2 separate regions of the Homo sapiens genome follow, and region 2 is linked to region 1. The links come from fine-mapping of genetic effects on gene expression. Tissue or cell type: tibial nerve. Region 1 holds a variant in brackets; the other region holds the start of a gene. All regions are shown on one strand. Distances are between the middles of the regions.

Region 1 (8,179 bases):
CCGCCATCTACCCTTCCTAGTCGCTGGTAACCATCCTTCTACTGTCTCCATAAATTCAATTGTTTTAATTTGTAGCTCCCACAAATAAGTAAGCACATCCCCATGTTCAAGTTTTAGCTGCATAATAATTATGTTAAACACCTCATAGTACTAAGCGCTTCACAGACACTAATAGGTTAATCTTCACAACAACCTCTAAAGGAAGTACTGCTATTATCTCCATTTTTCTGGATGAAAAAACAGCGTCCTTAAGCAACTTGCTCAGTTGCTCAGCCCGTAAATTACAGATTTGGAATCTGAACCCAGTCAGCCCAGTTGCAGAGTTCTTGCTCTCGGCACGGTCACAAGGCCCCTCAAGGAGAGGTGGCCACCAAAAGAAAGGAAAGGGCTCCGGATGCACATGGTCTAATCACGGCAGCAAGGTGTACAGCAGCAGCCACTGGAAGCAACGCAAGTGTCCATCAAAACGGGACTGGGAGGCGGGTGGATCACGAGGTCAGGAGTTCAAGGACAGCCTGGCCAAGATGGTGAAACCTGTCTCTACTAAAAATACAAAAATTAGCTGGGTGTGGTGGTGGGCACCTGTAATCCCAGCTACTCAGGAGGCTGAGGCAAGAGAATCACTTGAACCCAGGGGGCGGAGGTTGCAGTGAGCTGAGATCACACCACTATAGCCTGGGCAACACAATGAGACTCCGTATCAAAACAACAACAACAACAACAAAGAGAGACTGGATTAATAACTTGCATTATACATATGCAGTGAAACTGTGCACACCAGCTAAGATGAATGATCTAAATCTACTATATGTGACAATATACAGTTGACCCTTCAAATATGGGTTTGAACTGTGTGGGTCCACTTATTCCTGGATTTTCTTCCATCTCTGCCACTCCTGAGACAGTAACACCAAAGCCTCCTCTTTTCTTCCTCCTCTGCTTACTCAATATAAAGATGACCAGAAGGAAGACCTTGATGATGATCCACTTCCACTTAATGAATAGTAAATATATATTCTCCTCCTTCTGATTTTCTTAATAATTTTTTCTTTTCTCTAGCTTACTTTATTGCAAGAATACAATATAGAATACCTACAACATACAAAATATGTGTTGTTCCACTGTTTACGGCGTTGGCAAGTCTTCTGTTCAATGGAAGTTAAGTTTTGGGCGAGTCAAAAGTTACAGGTGGATTTTTGACTGCATGAAGGAGTCAGTGCCCCTCCCTCCCTCATTGTTCAAGAGTCAACTGTAAATAAGTCTTGGAAACATAATGTTTTTGTTTTTGTTTTTGAGACAGAGTCTCACTCTGTTGCGCGGGCTGGAGTGCAGTGGCATGATCTCGGCTCACTGCAACCTCCACCTCCTGGGTTCAAGGGATTCTCCTGCCTCAGCCTCCTGAGTAGCTGGGATTACAGGCGCCCACCACCACGCCCAGCTAATTTTTGTATTTTTAGTAGAGACAGGGTTTCACCAGGTTGGCCAGGCTGGTCTCGAACTCCTGACCTCAAGTGATCCGCCCACCTCAGCCTCCCATAGTGCTGGAATTACAGGCGTGAGCCACTTGGCCTGGCCTTGGAAACATAATGTTAAAGGGAAAAATGCAATTTGCTAAATGAATCACAGAGTTTAACATTTACGGAAAGTGTGGAAACAATACTATATATTGTTTGTGGTTAGGCACATGTAGTTAAAGTAAAAAAAAGATACAAAAAGATACAAAAAAAGTAGGAGGAGAAAAGGGAATGGTGTCAGGGAAGTACCCAGCAGGCTTCCACTGTAATGTAACATTTTGTTTCTAATCAAAAGAATGTCTGAAACAAGAAATGGACAAATGTGCTTTGAAAAGTACAAGCTGGGCCCTATGGCTCACACCTATGATCCTAGCACTCTGGGAGGCTGAGGCAGGCAGACTGCTTGATGCCAGGAGTTCGAGACCAGCCATTACTAACATGGTGAAACCCCTTCTCTACTAAAAATACAAAAAATTTACAGGCACACACCTGTAAAGCCAGCTACTCAGGAGGCTGAGGCACGAGAATTGCTTGAATCCAGGAGGAAGAGGCTGCAGTGAGCTGAAATGGCACCACTGCACTCCGGCCTGGGTGACAGAGCATGCCTCTGTGTCAAAAGAAAGGAAAGGTGCAAAAGATGGGACCACATGGCACACCAAGACTGCTGTGATCACAGGTCCCCCTTACAAGGAATGGGTGCACCAGAGAAATCCTGCCCCGTCCCCGGCATGCCCCCACCTGGATAGCGCAGGTGGTTGGCCTCTGTCACTCAACCAAAGGGAACTGCTTCCAGCCTTTTCCCTCTTTCCCCAACTCCTCACACTAGACAGAAGGAATGTTCCCCAGGGCCAATTGTGCCAGGTGACTCTCTTCCTTAGAATTCTCCCATGGCTCCCCAGTGCCCTCAGAAGCAAGCCCACACTCCTTTCCAGGGTCAACATTTACCTCCATAGCCTGGGCCCTGCTGCCTTGCCAGCCTCACCTGCCACCATTCTTGTTCCCACACCCTGTAGAAGCCACAGTTGCATGCAGAGCCACCTCCATTCCCTCTCGTCCAGTAGTTTTTCTCACCTTGATAATTTTGCATGTGTGACCCCTTGCTCTGGAAAAGGCCCTTACCCCCTGCCAGCCTTGTCGGTCTGATGCCCGGAGTCCTCACCACCATGCACAGTGCATCCTAAGAGAAGCCTGACAGGCCTTGCCAGGAGATTGGCATCAGCCACCTCTGGATGAAGGAAGGGCGGGCCATTTCCCATGGCCCCATCCTACTTTCCCGCAGTTCCCAGACTTATTGTGGTGGTTGTTGCTAACAACTCACATGTACAATCAGTGGTAAAATTCAGCTTCTTTCATTCAAAACCAAATGAATGCCACCAAAATAGCTTCATAAGACAAAAGGACAAAATGACACTTTTCTTCCCACTTAGTTCACAAATGTCCCCTCTGGCTAACCAAAAGGGTACCTGTTCCATCTGCTCTTTCTGTCCTGCCTCCTCCTCCTCCTGAGTTCCCAAAGCCAAAAGATTGCAGGTAGTAAATGCACCCCAAATTCCCCCCGCTTTCTCCTCCCTGAACTAACAAAAGGAAGCAAGGAGGTTAGGATTCACCTGTATCTGTGTGTGCATTTGTGTATGTGAGTGTATGGGTGCTCACATATGGGTACACAGAAAAAAAAATCTAAAAAAAAAAATTCCTTTCCTATTTGTGACCACATATCCTTTTTTTTTTTTTTTTTTTTGACACAGGATCTTGCTCTGTCACCCAGGCTGGAGTGCAGAGGTGTGATCTCGGCTCACAGTAACCTCTGCCTCCCAGGTTCAAGAGATTCTTGTGCCTCAGCCTCCCATGTAGCTGGGACTACAGGTGCACACCACCATGCCCAGCTAATTTTTGTATTTTTTGTAGAGCCAGGGTTTTACCACATTGGCCTGGCTGGTCTCGAAGTCTTGGCCTCAAGAGTTCTACGTTTCTAACAGAGTTCCATTTCTAATAGAGTTGCTACATATAATACATGTCAAATATTTATCTAATACATATGCACATACTACATGCATATGCATTTGTACAGGTGTGTTTTAGGCACCCAGGTCTCACTGCTTGCCAGATAACAAAGTTCTTCCCTGTGGACCTCTACTTCCCCATCTATAAAATGGGAGACTTCATCCCCTTCATCCCT[G/A]ACCGTTTATCTGAGTCTGTCTCATGTAGAAGGTGGAGGCAAACACCTACTTTGCATGATTTGTCCTAAATTTTCACCTCCCTGTCTGCAATCCTGCTGGAAATCCCATTAGTGACCCCATCCACTATCCTCTTTGGAAATGTCCTTATCCCTAGTATGAATATCTGTAATTCCCTACAGTTTTCAACCTGGGGTGATTTTGCTCCCAGGAGACACTTGGCAATGTTTGTATACATTTTTGGTCATCAAGTGTTGGGGGTTGCTACTGGTCAACTGGCTGGTAGAGGCCGGGGGGTGCAGTTAATATCCTGCAGTGCACAGGGCAGCCCCCACCACACATCAAGAGGAGTAAAGTTGATTGCGAAGCCGAGGAGGGCAGATCGCTTGAGCTCAGGAATTCGAGATGAGCCTGGGCAACATGGAGAAACACCATCTCTACAAAAAATAAAAAAGTTAGCGAGGTGTGGCGGTGCATCTGTGGTCTCAGAGACTCAGGAGGCTGAGGCAGGAGGATCACCTGAGCCCAGGGAGGTTGAGGCTGCAGTGAACCCTGATGGTGCCACTGTACCCCAGCCTGGGTGATGTGAGACCCTGTCGCAAAAAAAAAAAAAAAAAAAAAGCGGTGAAGTTGAGAATGAGTAGCCCTGCCTAGAATGAAAGCATTTATTGGATACTTTCCTTTACACTCTCTAGACTGAGATGCTTGGAGTGTTCTGGTAGTACCCAAGGTAGAAGGAAGCATTACAAGTTTAAAAATGGAGAAATTATGTTTTTATGCAGCAGCTGGGCACCAGGCTATGGATTCATCACTTTGTAGGCCACATCTCCTGCCAAGCAAGCCACATGCACCCTGTTTCCAGATGAGAATGTTGAGACAAGGTTGGTTAAAACACGCAGTTCTGAAGAGTTACTGTAACAGATTCTGGAGTCTGTGCTCTGGAAGGGAGGAATGGGGGTGGTCACTAACTCGAGGAGAGGGAAGCATTTGTGCCTGAACAATGAGAGTTGTTTTCAGATGAAGAAATCGGCACATGTTGAGAGAACAAGACAAGCTTTTTATCCGAGTGCTTGATTTTCATTACAATGACAGGTGTCTCCATGGCTTCGTGCTTGGAAGTGACTAATTCTAAGGAGTCTTTCCTGTTGGTCAAGTCCTAGTCTCTGGGTTTGACTACTCATTCATTCATTTGATCTTTCATTCATTCAATAAATACCTATCAAGCCTCAACTATATACTGTGCTCTGTGGATATATTGAATGCAAAATCAGGCGTGGCCCTTGCCCTCATAGAGCCTAGGAAAAGAGATGGAAATGAAATCAAAGAACTAAATAAATACATATAGAGCAACATGTGTGATTAGGGCTTCCAAAGAGAGGTGAGCAAAGCAGAAAATAGCACATCAGAAGATTGGCCTGGCCATAGAAGCCAGGGAGGACGCTGGGCCGAGATTCGAAGCCTGCATAAGGGGGATAATTACGTCAGGTGTGGTGGCTCACGCCTGTAATCCCAGCAGTTTGGGAGGCCGAGGCAGGCAGATCACTTGATCTGTCAGGAGTTAGAGACCAGCCTGGCCAACATGGTGAAACCCTGCCTCTACTAAAACAAAATTAGCCGGGCATGGTGGTGTGCACCTGTAATCCCAGCTACTTGGGAGGTTGAGACAAGAGAATCACTTGAACCTGGGAGGTGGAGGTTGCAGTGAGCCAAGATCATGCCACTTCACTCCAGCCTGGATGACAGAGCAAGATTCCGTCTCTAATAATAATAATAATAATAATAATAATAATAATAGGAATAATTAGGCAAACTGGGGGAAAATATGTTTCAGGAAAAGAAAACAGCATATGCCAGAGTCCTGTGGCTGGAGGACTCATCAAGGGTACACAGGACAGAAAAAAAAGTTTATATACATGGTAGGAAGCTAAAGAGACAAAGCAAGGGCTGGTCCACACAGGTCTTGTGAGTTAGTAATTAGGATTTGTATCCAGAGGGTGAAGGGGAGCCATGGCAGGTTTAAGCAGGAGGGTCTCATGATCAGATTTGCATTTTGAGATCCCTCTGACTTCTGCATGGGATTTGTAGGGGGACAGAGGGAGTGCAGACAGACCTGTGAGAAGTGCTGCTGGGGTTGTGTGAACAAGAGAGGATGCGGGCCTGGATCAGGGGATTGGTGAGAAGTGTGTGAATTTAACAGAAATTCATTAGCTCAGATGGGTGATGGAAGTTCAGGAGAACTGCATGAAGAACTCATACACCCTTCTTTTGGGATCTCCTTCAGGGCTGCCCTGCCAAGGCTCCCAGATGCCCGCGGCCATCACCAATCAACTCCCCTGCTCGAGATGGGGAGCAAAGATTTGGTTTTAGGAAGCCACTATTGTGGTGGACTGTGGCTCCCACCTGGGCCTGGCTTCCAGCCTGGATTCCTCGCAGAGCCTGTCCAGGGCAGCCACAGGACGCAGGGACTCTCAGCCCTGCACACTCGGGGCTTCAAAGGCCACAGCAAAGGGGAGGCCCAGAAAGAGCTATTTCAGGCTTCCTATTTTTAAAGCCGGGGTCAGGGTGCCCTGCTCACCACCAACATTTCCAGTACTGGAAGCTTCAAAAACTTCAACTCCCTCCAGCCCAGCACCAGAGACAGGCTCTGTGCACAGGGCTGTGCAGTGACCATGGGCAGCCAGGAGAGAGGCCTCCAGCATGGGTGGAGGAGGTTTTGGAGTGCCGTGGTGCAAGAAAAGCCAGAGAGGTTGACCACCATGGGTGGGATAGAGCCCTGGGTTCAAACCCAGCTTTTTCATTTTCCACCAGCATGGCCTTGAGCAAATCATCTCCCCCTTTCTGAGCCTCAGGGGCTCCCCTAGAAAATGGGAATAAGCCACAGGTGGTCATAGGTGGAAGCGTGAGGACATCAGCCAGCAATCACTTAATAAATGCCTCCTGTGAGCCTGTCATGGTACGCGGTGGTGGTAATGCAATTGTGAACAAGATGTGCTTCACTGAGCTTTCATTCTAACAGGGAAACCAACATTAAAGAAAAATTGAAGGCTGGGGGCCGTGGCTCATACCTATAATCCCAGTGCTTTGGGAGACCGAGACGGGAAGATTGCTTGAGCTGAGCCCAGGAGTTTGAGACTAGTCTGGGCAACACAGCGAGACCCCACCTCTACAAAAAATAAAAATAAAAAATTATCCGGGCATGATGGTGCACACCTGTAGTCCCAGCTACATGGGAGGCTGAGCCAGGAGGATCACCTGAGCTCAGGAGATCAGGGCTCAGTGAGCTGTGATGGCACCACTGCTCTCCAACCTGGGCAAGAGTGAGACCCTATCTCTAAAAAGAAGAATATAGTTTGCCTCCTGAATATATAATAATGATGAATATAAAGTATGCCTGGAAGAAAAGGAGGATTTGGCCAATATGTGGACCAATCTTTTTGACAGAAACTGCTATCTCAGGAAATGGCAGCGTGAGCCACCTGGTTGATGTTTCCTAATTCCTGGATTAATGGAGAGAAAGAAAATTTAAGCCCAATCCACTCAAAGTTGCCTTCTTTAGTGAAAAAAAGAATAACAACTTTATGAAGAAACAGCATTAACTATAAACTGGTCTTGGAAAAGGAACATATCACCCACCTATTTTCATGAAAGATGCAGAAAGGCGAACAGTTTAAAGAAATACAAAACCCAAAGGCAATGGTAGCCAAGTGCAATGGCTCACACCCATAATCCCAGCACTTTGGGAGGCTGAGACAGGAGGATCACTTGAGCCCAGGAGTTCAAGATCAGCCTGGACAACATAGCAAGACCCTATCTTGGCAAAGCAATGGTTCTCAAACTTGGGTTTACAGTTGGGACACCCCTCCCTCCCAAATTGTGATTCAGTAGGTCTAGGGTAGGACTGAGAACTTGCATTTCTTTTTATTTATTTATTGAGACCCGTTCTCACTCTTTTGCCCAGGCTGGAGTGCAATGGCGTGATCATAGCTCACTGCAGCCTTGAACTCCTAGGCTCAAGTGATCCTCCCACCTCAGCCTCCTGAGTAGCTAGGACTACAGTTGTGCACCACCATGCCCAGCTAATTTTTTATTTTTTATAGAGATGGGGTCTTACCATGTTGTCCTGGCTGGTCTCGAATTCCCGGCCTCAAGCGATCCTCCCACCTCAGTTTCCCAAAGTGTTGGGATTATAGGCCTGAACCAAGGCTCCTGATCGGAACTTGCATTTCTAACAAGACCCCAGGTGATGCCAGTGATGCTGGTTTGTGGTTCACACACTGAGAACCGCGGCTTCAGGGAAGCTGGGAATACCTTTGGAGATTCACTAATATGAGCCCTGCTTCACTGAGTCTCTTTTCTCACAAGGGGAGACAGGAAGCCCTCGACAGCCTCTTAGGGGCAGAAGGGTCTGGTTTTCAGCTTCGTGCTGGGAGGAGCTTGGGGCAGCCTCTGAGCTCCTTCCCATCCACATCCCCAGCCAGCTGCTTCATCACT
Region 2 (8,179 bases), 94 kb before region 1:
AAACACCAAACATCATGTGTTCTATGCATTATGCTATATTCTATATTCATTCTTTATTATTCTATATTCTATGCATATAGAGTAATAAAAGTCATCCAAACGCTATTTGTTTGTGGTTAAATAAAATCTTCAAGCAAATACACTTCAAAGCAAACATCCTTCTTGGCTCAAATCTTTGTATTTCACACTAGTCTATAAGCTCCATGAAGGAAGGGGCTGTGGCTGGGTTTGTCATAGTACCCCGTGCCTGGCTCATAGAAATGGCTCTACAACTATGTACTGAATTAATGTCATAAACGGTATCATAAATGTCCTTTAAGGACTGTCAGTGCTCCTAGAAAATTATAAAGAATCTTTAAAATGTTGTTTCAGACCTTCCTATCATATTGTATGAATACTTTGAAAGGACAAGCTTTGCAATAGGTGATCCAACATTTGAAATGTCCAGTAAATAGAAATAAGACTCCAGGGGAAAGATGAAGTTCACATTACTCAACCGCCTTCAACTATATGTGATTTCAAGTCATCTGAATTTCATTCTGTTTTTTTTAAAAAAAAAAGAGTAACAGAGTAATACAGCCTACAGTAAAAGTCGTCTGAATCACTCCAGGGCTTAAGATGATGACCCTTTGTGGGCCTTTGCTTGTGAATTAGACCTTACTTAAATAAAAGTATTTCTTTTCCAACATGATGTAAAACAACTGGCCTGCACATCTAAATGCTCCTGTTTTAACTGGGCCTGCAAGGGAGGCTGTGGGTCACAGTTTACTACTCCCAGTAGGCCCCATTATCAGCTACATTAGCTCAACAACATTTCAGTAAACTAAAGCAGCTATACCATTTGGACAAACAGTCAGCTTTTCCAGGATTTGCACTCATTGGTTGGTTAACTGAATAAAGTGTCAACATAACAAAATATTTGCCTCTTGCCATCTCAGGGAAGCAAAATCTCCCCTGGGCAGAATGTTCCATTTTCTGAGACTCTCCTGTAATAGGCAGGAAGCTGCAAACCCAGTGTTTCATTTAAATTAGCTAGATATTTCGTTCTGATGCTCTTCTGTTTAAAACTGTGGGAAAGGCAAAGTAACTAAAATAAGGAAGCACAAAGAATAGTGACTGCAAATAATTTGCTGGAAATAAAAAAATCACTAGTGATAGACCAAAGGCAAATTAAAATGTATGCTTCTCATTCAGATACCAAAAATACAAATCTGAACATCTCTTTCAAGAATACCAAAAACTGGTGATCACATGGCTTCCTCTATAATGAAGCTGAAATAGAAACTTATCAGAAAACATTTGACCCGTATCCCTTTTACCAATAGTGTGAAGTCATACCAGCTATTTAAGTCATTAGGCTGGGGCATTTTAACATGCAATTAACTTTTTTACAGGATCTAGAAATTCCCCAACCCCCAACCTCCAAATCAAATAGGTAGGCCACTAACTGCCATCCAGTGGTAGAGAGAATTTTGCAAGATGTTATACCTGATAATCTCAATGTAACAGAATCCTAACACAGCACAAGGAGTGACTGTTACTATGTAAATAGCTACATTACAAAACTAAAGCCAAAGCCACTAAGATAAGTAGAAAACAAATTAGAATCTCAGGAGGAGGTTCCAATGGCCCAATTCGAGAGTCTATTTTAAAAAGAGCAACAGAGTAACAATTACTGAAGGGCTGTTTCCTAAAATTACTCTCTGGTTGGTATTTCTCAATTTTCAAATGTCATGAGAAATAATGCTGGCTGTCACTTACTCTGCCTTAAAAGAAAGCATTACCAAAGAATACCACTGAAAAACAAAGGCATTCATACAAGGAAGTGAACACCCTAAGTGCATAAGTACGTTCTTAAGAGGGACACTAAAAAAGCAGAAGTCACATTAAGTTCCAAACACCAAGAAAAAAAAAACTGAACAGAAGTTCCTAACTTTATTAATATTATATACTAGCCCCCCCCAAAAAAAAAACTGCCCATGAGTTGAGATTTATCAATTTTGTATATAGAAATACTACATATTTAGGACTCCCTGCCTTTGGGTGGTGGAGGGACACTAGGAAAGGCAAGACAAAAGAGGAATTAAGCCTTTTTCTACCACATTAGAAATGTACAGTTTTTTTGGTGAAATTTAGGTTTGATGTAGGCGTTCTTGTTCTCTAAGTAAGTTTCCCATTTGCCGGAAATTTTAAGCAGCATTGATTTTTTTCAATTAGCTTCAGATATGCTACACTCTGGAATAGGGGTGTTAAACTCACGACATTGCAGAAAGGTTTGCACTTTTCCCTCATTTTCACTACTTGGCATTGTCTATCAAAGAGTAGCACATCCTGCAAAACCAACAAGAGGCATGGGCTAAGGAGGAAAAGCAAGCTCAAAATACCTAGCAAGCATGTCTTCATTTGCACAATTTAGCTTTTCACAACAAATAACAAGGGGACTGGTATTTTCTGTATCATAGGGCTCATGGATGACTTGTAAAAAAAATCAGATGATGATCACTTAGCATTAGGTAACATTTAAGCAATCTTGGGCGCCTAACGCTTGAAGGACTGATGATTTCAAATGGACAATAACTTTGGTTTAGATTCCAATATTTTACAGAATTGCATGGTTTCAAATTCACCATAAACAAGATGCCTCTTTTGAGCATCAATTCCAAGAGCTATTTAGCATCAAGGAATCACATTAGCTGTACAACTCATGATGGTGTTAATTAGGAAAGGAGCTAGAGAAAAAAAAATCCATCACTGAAGCCTTGATACGTTATTTAAAACTCACTATTAACCAGACAAACTATTTTTTCTGGGGAAGTGCTAATGATATGAACTAGAAAAAATTTTACTAGTACCTTAATAATAAATCATTTGAGAGAAAATTGCAACTTGGTATGCACCTCACCGAGCCCCTCGCCAATTCAATCGGGCCCTCCTTTGATAATTTAACAACAAATTCCTGTCTGGAATCACCCATTCAAGTGTCTTTTTAAGTGACTCCTGTTTCAATTTTTTAATAAAGTGCCACCAGTAGATCTACAAGTTGAGGAAAGCAGCTCAGGTGACACACTTGGCACCAAAAAGAATACTGAGTGGGTCAAAATCCTGCCCGGGGACAAAATAGAAGAGAAGCCGAAGAAGGTGACTAGACTTAATAGACTTCAAGAAGAGCAAGTACTGAAAACAGCAGTTTAACTACCTCGGACAATAAGCAACAAGCCTGCAGTCCCCAGGTAAGCGGCCCAGAGGGAGGTGAGAGGATGGAGTTGGAAAGGGGGACCAATGAGCCCGGGAAGAAGGAGCGACCAGGATGGAGCGCAAAGCAGTGACAGGCAAGGAGCCAACGGGGACTACACCAATGCAACAGGAAGAACCACGGGGATGGGACAGGGCAGGACAGGACAGGGCTGGGGGGAGGGGGCGACAGGGATGGAGCTGGTCCAGCCAAGTCATAACCAGACCCTGGCTGGGGCGCTCGCTGCGCGCAGGGCGCCGCGCCGGGCACTTTGGAGCGCTCTCTCCCGGGGTGCCCCCCACCGGCCCTCCGATGCCCCATTTCAGAGACTGGAACGACGAGGCCGGCCCCGCATCGCCCGCTCCGCTGTGTCACCCGCCCCGGGGCAGCGGAGGCTCAGCGCCCGACCCTCCAGGAAGCAGGGGGTAGCTGGCGGCCGCAGGGGGCGGCGGCTTGGGGCCGGCGCCGGCCGGGGCAGCTGGTACCTGGGCTCCGGCAGGACGATCCTCTTGCTGGCGCGGGCGGCCGGGGTCGCCTTGCTCTTCTCCATGGCCATCAGGTAACTGACATCGGCCAGCACAGCCTCCAGGTCCGCCATGTTGGCGAGCTTTGGCGGCGGCGGCGGCGGTTACTCCGGACCTGGACGGGACGCGCGCCCGCCGCCGCCGCCCGCCGCGCCCCGACCTGGGGGGGCCGCCCCGGGGCAGCCCCCCCCTCCGCGCGCCCCCGCCCCGCGCGCGCGCCGCGCGCCCCACTAGCGCTCTGCGCGCGCCGCAGGCTGTAGCCGGCCGGGGTCGCAGCACGCCTCCCCGCTCCGCCCCCTCGCGCGCCGCCCGGCGCCCCGCGCACGCGCGCCGCCCCCTGCTCCTTCAGCGAGGGTCTGCGGGGAGCGCGCGTCCAACGGTCAGCGCCCCTCAGTGCACAGTCCCAGCGGCCTCGCTGGGCCGGCGCCTCCCGACCAAGTCTCTACGGTCGCCCTCCCCTCGGGGTGGCCACGAGGGACTCCTCCTCCTCTTCCTCCTCCCCTCCCTCCCCCTCGGTCTCCGCCTCCTCCTTCTCCTCCTCCTTCACTGCCCCGACCTCCCGCCCCAGGTTCCACGCGCTCTGATGCCCGCCCCGCTCACCCAGAGAAGCCCTGGGCCAGACGTCCACAACCCAAGGGGTTATGGGGAGGCCTCTGCTCCCTGGACACAGTAGTTCTCAAACTGGACAGTGTCAATCAGCATCCTCCGGGAGGTCTGGGGTGGCCCCGGAAATACATGTGTCCCACCTATCCCAGCAGGTAATGATGAAACTCCTGCTCTGGTCCGGGCTACCGGTGAACAGCGCCCAGCGGGCCGGGCCCCCAACCTCGCTCCTGAGCCTGAACATCCCCCCAACCCCACCGTGAGAATTCAGCGAAGAGTAAAAGCTGGAAAAAGTTGCGTGTCTTAGGCTAAGCAGAACAAAGTGGGGTGACGGCTCCCCGGCTAGGAACAGAGATGCCCTTAGGGAGCCCTCTGATGGAAGAGCTCTCCGCTTAAGAAGGTCACCACTCCCTTACACTCAGGTGAGAGGTTTTAGTTTGGGTGTTGAAATGGTGTTGAGAAATAGAAGGAGAGAGAGTATTCCTGTCGTTAGGGTTTTACGGTCAATACAAGAGACAATTAGGGAGCATCTGCTGCGAGCACACTCGCACCACGAGGGTGATTTAGGGAAGTGGAAAAGCGAGATACAGCCCAAACACCGAAGCTGGGGGGAATTTCCAGCTTCCTGATCTTCGGTCTCGGTGTCTTTCATCATCACTCCACCCCGATGCCTGGGGTTTTCAGTTGCTTATTTTTCTACAGTGTGCACACAAGTCCGCATTCAGGATCCATGTGACACTCAGGCTGGAGTGGTGGTAAGGGACACGCAGGCAGTCTTAGGAAGACCTAAGCTGGAAATTAATGTTTTAAAATCCCTTTCATTCACCTGAATTGGTCACGTATTTCCATGAGCCTAGACGTTGCTAGAATTTGAGTGAACGTTCTGTCCATAACTTACAGGGTTAACGGGACCCACCAGATACAGTTAAGGTCAAATTTCAGATATTTCATGTAATGTCATTGCAGAAGCAGCCTGATTCTGTCATCAAATAGCCTGTTTCCCTCTTTTGTTTTCTCTCCCACGCCACAGCCCCCCTCAATCTGATTCCCTGCTATGCCTGCCATCACCACTGGCCAGTTTTACCACATGCTTCTCAAGACCCAAGGCACAATAGGCATAAAGTTGTCCTGAAAAGGACAAGAGGAGTGTCAGAAGTAGGAATGGCAGTTGAAGGAGCTTCGTCTGCCAGCAGAAAGCTGAAATGACAGGCAAGCACAAAATATATTAAGGAGACAAAGCTATGCATGAGCGAAATATCAAACTTTCATCTTCTACCCACTTTTTTTTTTTTTTTTTGCTTAAAAACAGGAAGACAGAATGTCTTGTCAAGGGTCACCCCAGGAGGAGGAGTAAATTCCCCAAAAAGCGGAACATATTTTTATGATTTAATTAATACAATTTCTCTCAATGTGTCTGTTTATCATTTGAGCATCCACATGATCAGACCTGACATCTGCCTACATTTTCTTGGTCGTCTTTGACTTCAGTTAAGAACCTTTTGCTCTTTGTTTTCCCCCAGCAGCACAGTATATTAAGTTTGGAACAAGACACACCTGAAATCAAATCCCTGCTCTGTGCTGGGTGATCTTAGAGGCAGTCTTTTACCTCTTTCTACTTTATTGTTCTCATAGGAAAAGTGGAAATGAGGCCTTTTACCCCAGGGTTGTTGAGAAGACAGAGGAGAAAAAGCACATAAAAATGCACCTTGTCGGGCGTGGGGCTCACACCTGTAATCCCAGCACTTTGGGAGGCTGAGGCAGGTGTATCGCTTGAGGCCAGGAGTTCAAGACCAGCCTGGCCAACAGGAAAAATACATTAAAAATAATGTCTCTATTAAAAATACAAAAATTAGCCAGGTATGGTGGTGCACGCCTGTAATCCCAGCTACTCAGGAGGCTGAGGCAGAAGAATCGCTTGAACCCAGGAAGCGAAAGCTGCAGTGAGTCGAGATCGCAGCACTGGGCAGGCACAGTGGCTCACACCTGTAATCCCAGTACTTTGGGAGGCTGAGGTGGGTGGATCACAAGGTCAGGAGATGGAGACCATCCTGGCTAACACGATGAAACTGTATCTCTACTAAAAATACAAAAACAAAATAAGCTGGGCGTGGTGGCGGGCGCCTGTAGTCCCAGCTACCTGGGAGGCTGAGGCAGGAGAATGGCAGGAACCCGGGAGGCAGAGCTTGCCGTCAGCCAAGATTGCACTGCTGCACTCCAGCCTGGGCAAGAGAGCAAGACCCTGTCTCAAAAAAAAAAAAAAAAAAAAAAAAAGCATTTTGCCTGGCACCCAGTAGATCCTCAATAAAGGTCATGGCACTTCCTCTATTTATTTTGCTTCATTTTACCCTGGCATGCTAGAGAAGATACTGAAACTAGTTGTTCACAGTCATTACACTTGAAGCAGGAAGACCCCTTACCAAAAATAACATCTCCCTAGGGCATTTCTAGGAACCAAAATGGCAAAAACATTTGCATCTATAAACATGAGCAATTACTCTTTTGGCAGAAAGACCAAGGAGTCCAAAATTTGGTCCTCTAACTGAGGCCCCTACACCATTTGAGTCAGCTGACTCAATTACCCAGGGGTATTTTTTTCTGGTGTTCATAGTGTATGAATTTCTGTTCCCTGGCTGTCTCTTTGGTTGTCTCACTTTCTCCACCCCCTCTTCTTTCCCTTTTTCTTGACTCTCTTGATACTGAACAGCTTTTTGTGTTCACTGCAAACAAAAGGGGTTAATGACAGTGATGATGAAGTTGTCATAACTGACCTGCTGGATCCTGTTACTAAACACCATCCCCAGCCTGTAATCATCACAAAGAACAGAAAAAACAAATAGCAACCCATTTGTACTTAGCTAATAATGCTCCCTTGCAAATAATTATGTCTCCCACCCCCAGAGGATTTAAATGACTTGGGGCTCACGCTGCTTGTGATAATAGACAAAACTCCAGCGTTCCCACAAGATTAATAATGTTCCCTTTTCTTCTTTTCTATGCCTTTCCATCGTTACAGGAGATGTTGCTGAGATGGGTGCATTAAAGTTTAGGCTTTCCAGAGTTTATATTGCTAACAACTTGAAAGGAAAAAAGCTAACTAGAGAACTGACTGGTCTTATTTGTTTTAGATTCTGGGCTTTACTAAGACTTCCTACTCTCAGAATCTCTGGACTATAAACGCTGGGTGGGGTGGGAGCTGGGAATGTTATTCTGGAAAATTAATCACAAATGAAAAGAAAATCAACTCTAAGACTCCAGTTAGAAGATTTTTGAAAATGGCAGAACATGACTGGCCTTCATTCAAGTCAGAATATTTAAAGCAATCCTTGCTAAGAAGAACTTGATTTTGTATAAGCAGTCCCTTAAATACAGTTGCTTCTCAAGAAAACCACACACAATTGATGTTTGAATGGCTTTATTTACAAACATCTCACTCCGTAAGCCTCTGCAGGTATTTCTAGCCTCCCAGGGGCCACTGTCCCGTTTCACCTGTAATTTGGATCACAATTCTGTTTGTTGTCACACACATCATATGAACTGCTTTTCATGCTGCTTTTATCCACAAAGCTTTACAAGCTTTAATGGCAGCTCTATGTATGACAACTTTATAAAGATCTGCCAAAAGGTATGATGCCAAGCTTTGCTTTTATTAAACTATTAGCTATTAGCACTGAAACGATGTTCAGTAGAGAAGTACTCTCCTTTCAATATGTGAGTGGAAACACATTTCTCTATGGGGACTGCTGGTCAGGGACTCACTCTAAAGAAAAGCCACAGTGTTGTGGTTCAGAGCATGGGCTCAAAAGACAAATGGATAAGAAGC

The links. PIP is the estimated chance that this variant, and not a neighbour inherited with it, causes the effect.
Region 2: GRK3 starts here. The variant in region 1 is fine-mapped to the expression of GRK3 in tibial nerve (GTEx, PIP above 0.99). The same link has a PIP of 0.9 or more in aorta, skeletal muscle and spinal cord.

The regions. Positions count from the first base shown.
Region 1 is chr22:25,466,662-25,474,840 of GRCh38, reverse strand. It overlaps LOC124905094 (a long non-coding RNA gene), which reads right to left and starts at 1,267. Exons shown (of 2, transcript XR_007068036.1): 1 at 1-1,267. RefSeq lists enhancers at 1,615-2,115, 2,116-2,616. The variant G/A (reference allele first, on the strand shown) is at 3,691.
Region 2 is chr22:25,560,692-25,568,870 of GRCh38, reverse strand. It overlaps GRK3 (G protein-coupled receptor kinase 3), which reads right to left and starts at 4,196. Exons shown (of 21, transcript NM_005160.4): 1 at 3,718-4,196. The coding sequence starts at 3,830. It overlaps GRK3-AS1 (GRK3 antisense RNA 1), which reads left to right and starts at 3,455. Exons shown (of 4, transcript NR_183564.1): 1 at 3,455-3,791; 2 at 4,512-4,781; 3 at 5,390-5,568; 4 at 7,373-7,983. RefSeq lists enhancers at 1,522-1,701, 2,984-3,499 and silencers at 3,611-3,860, 4,171-4,270.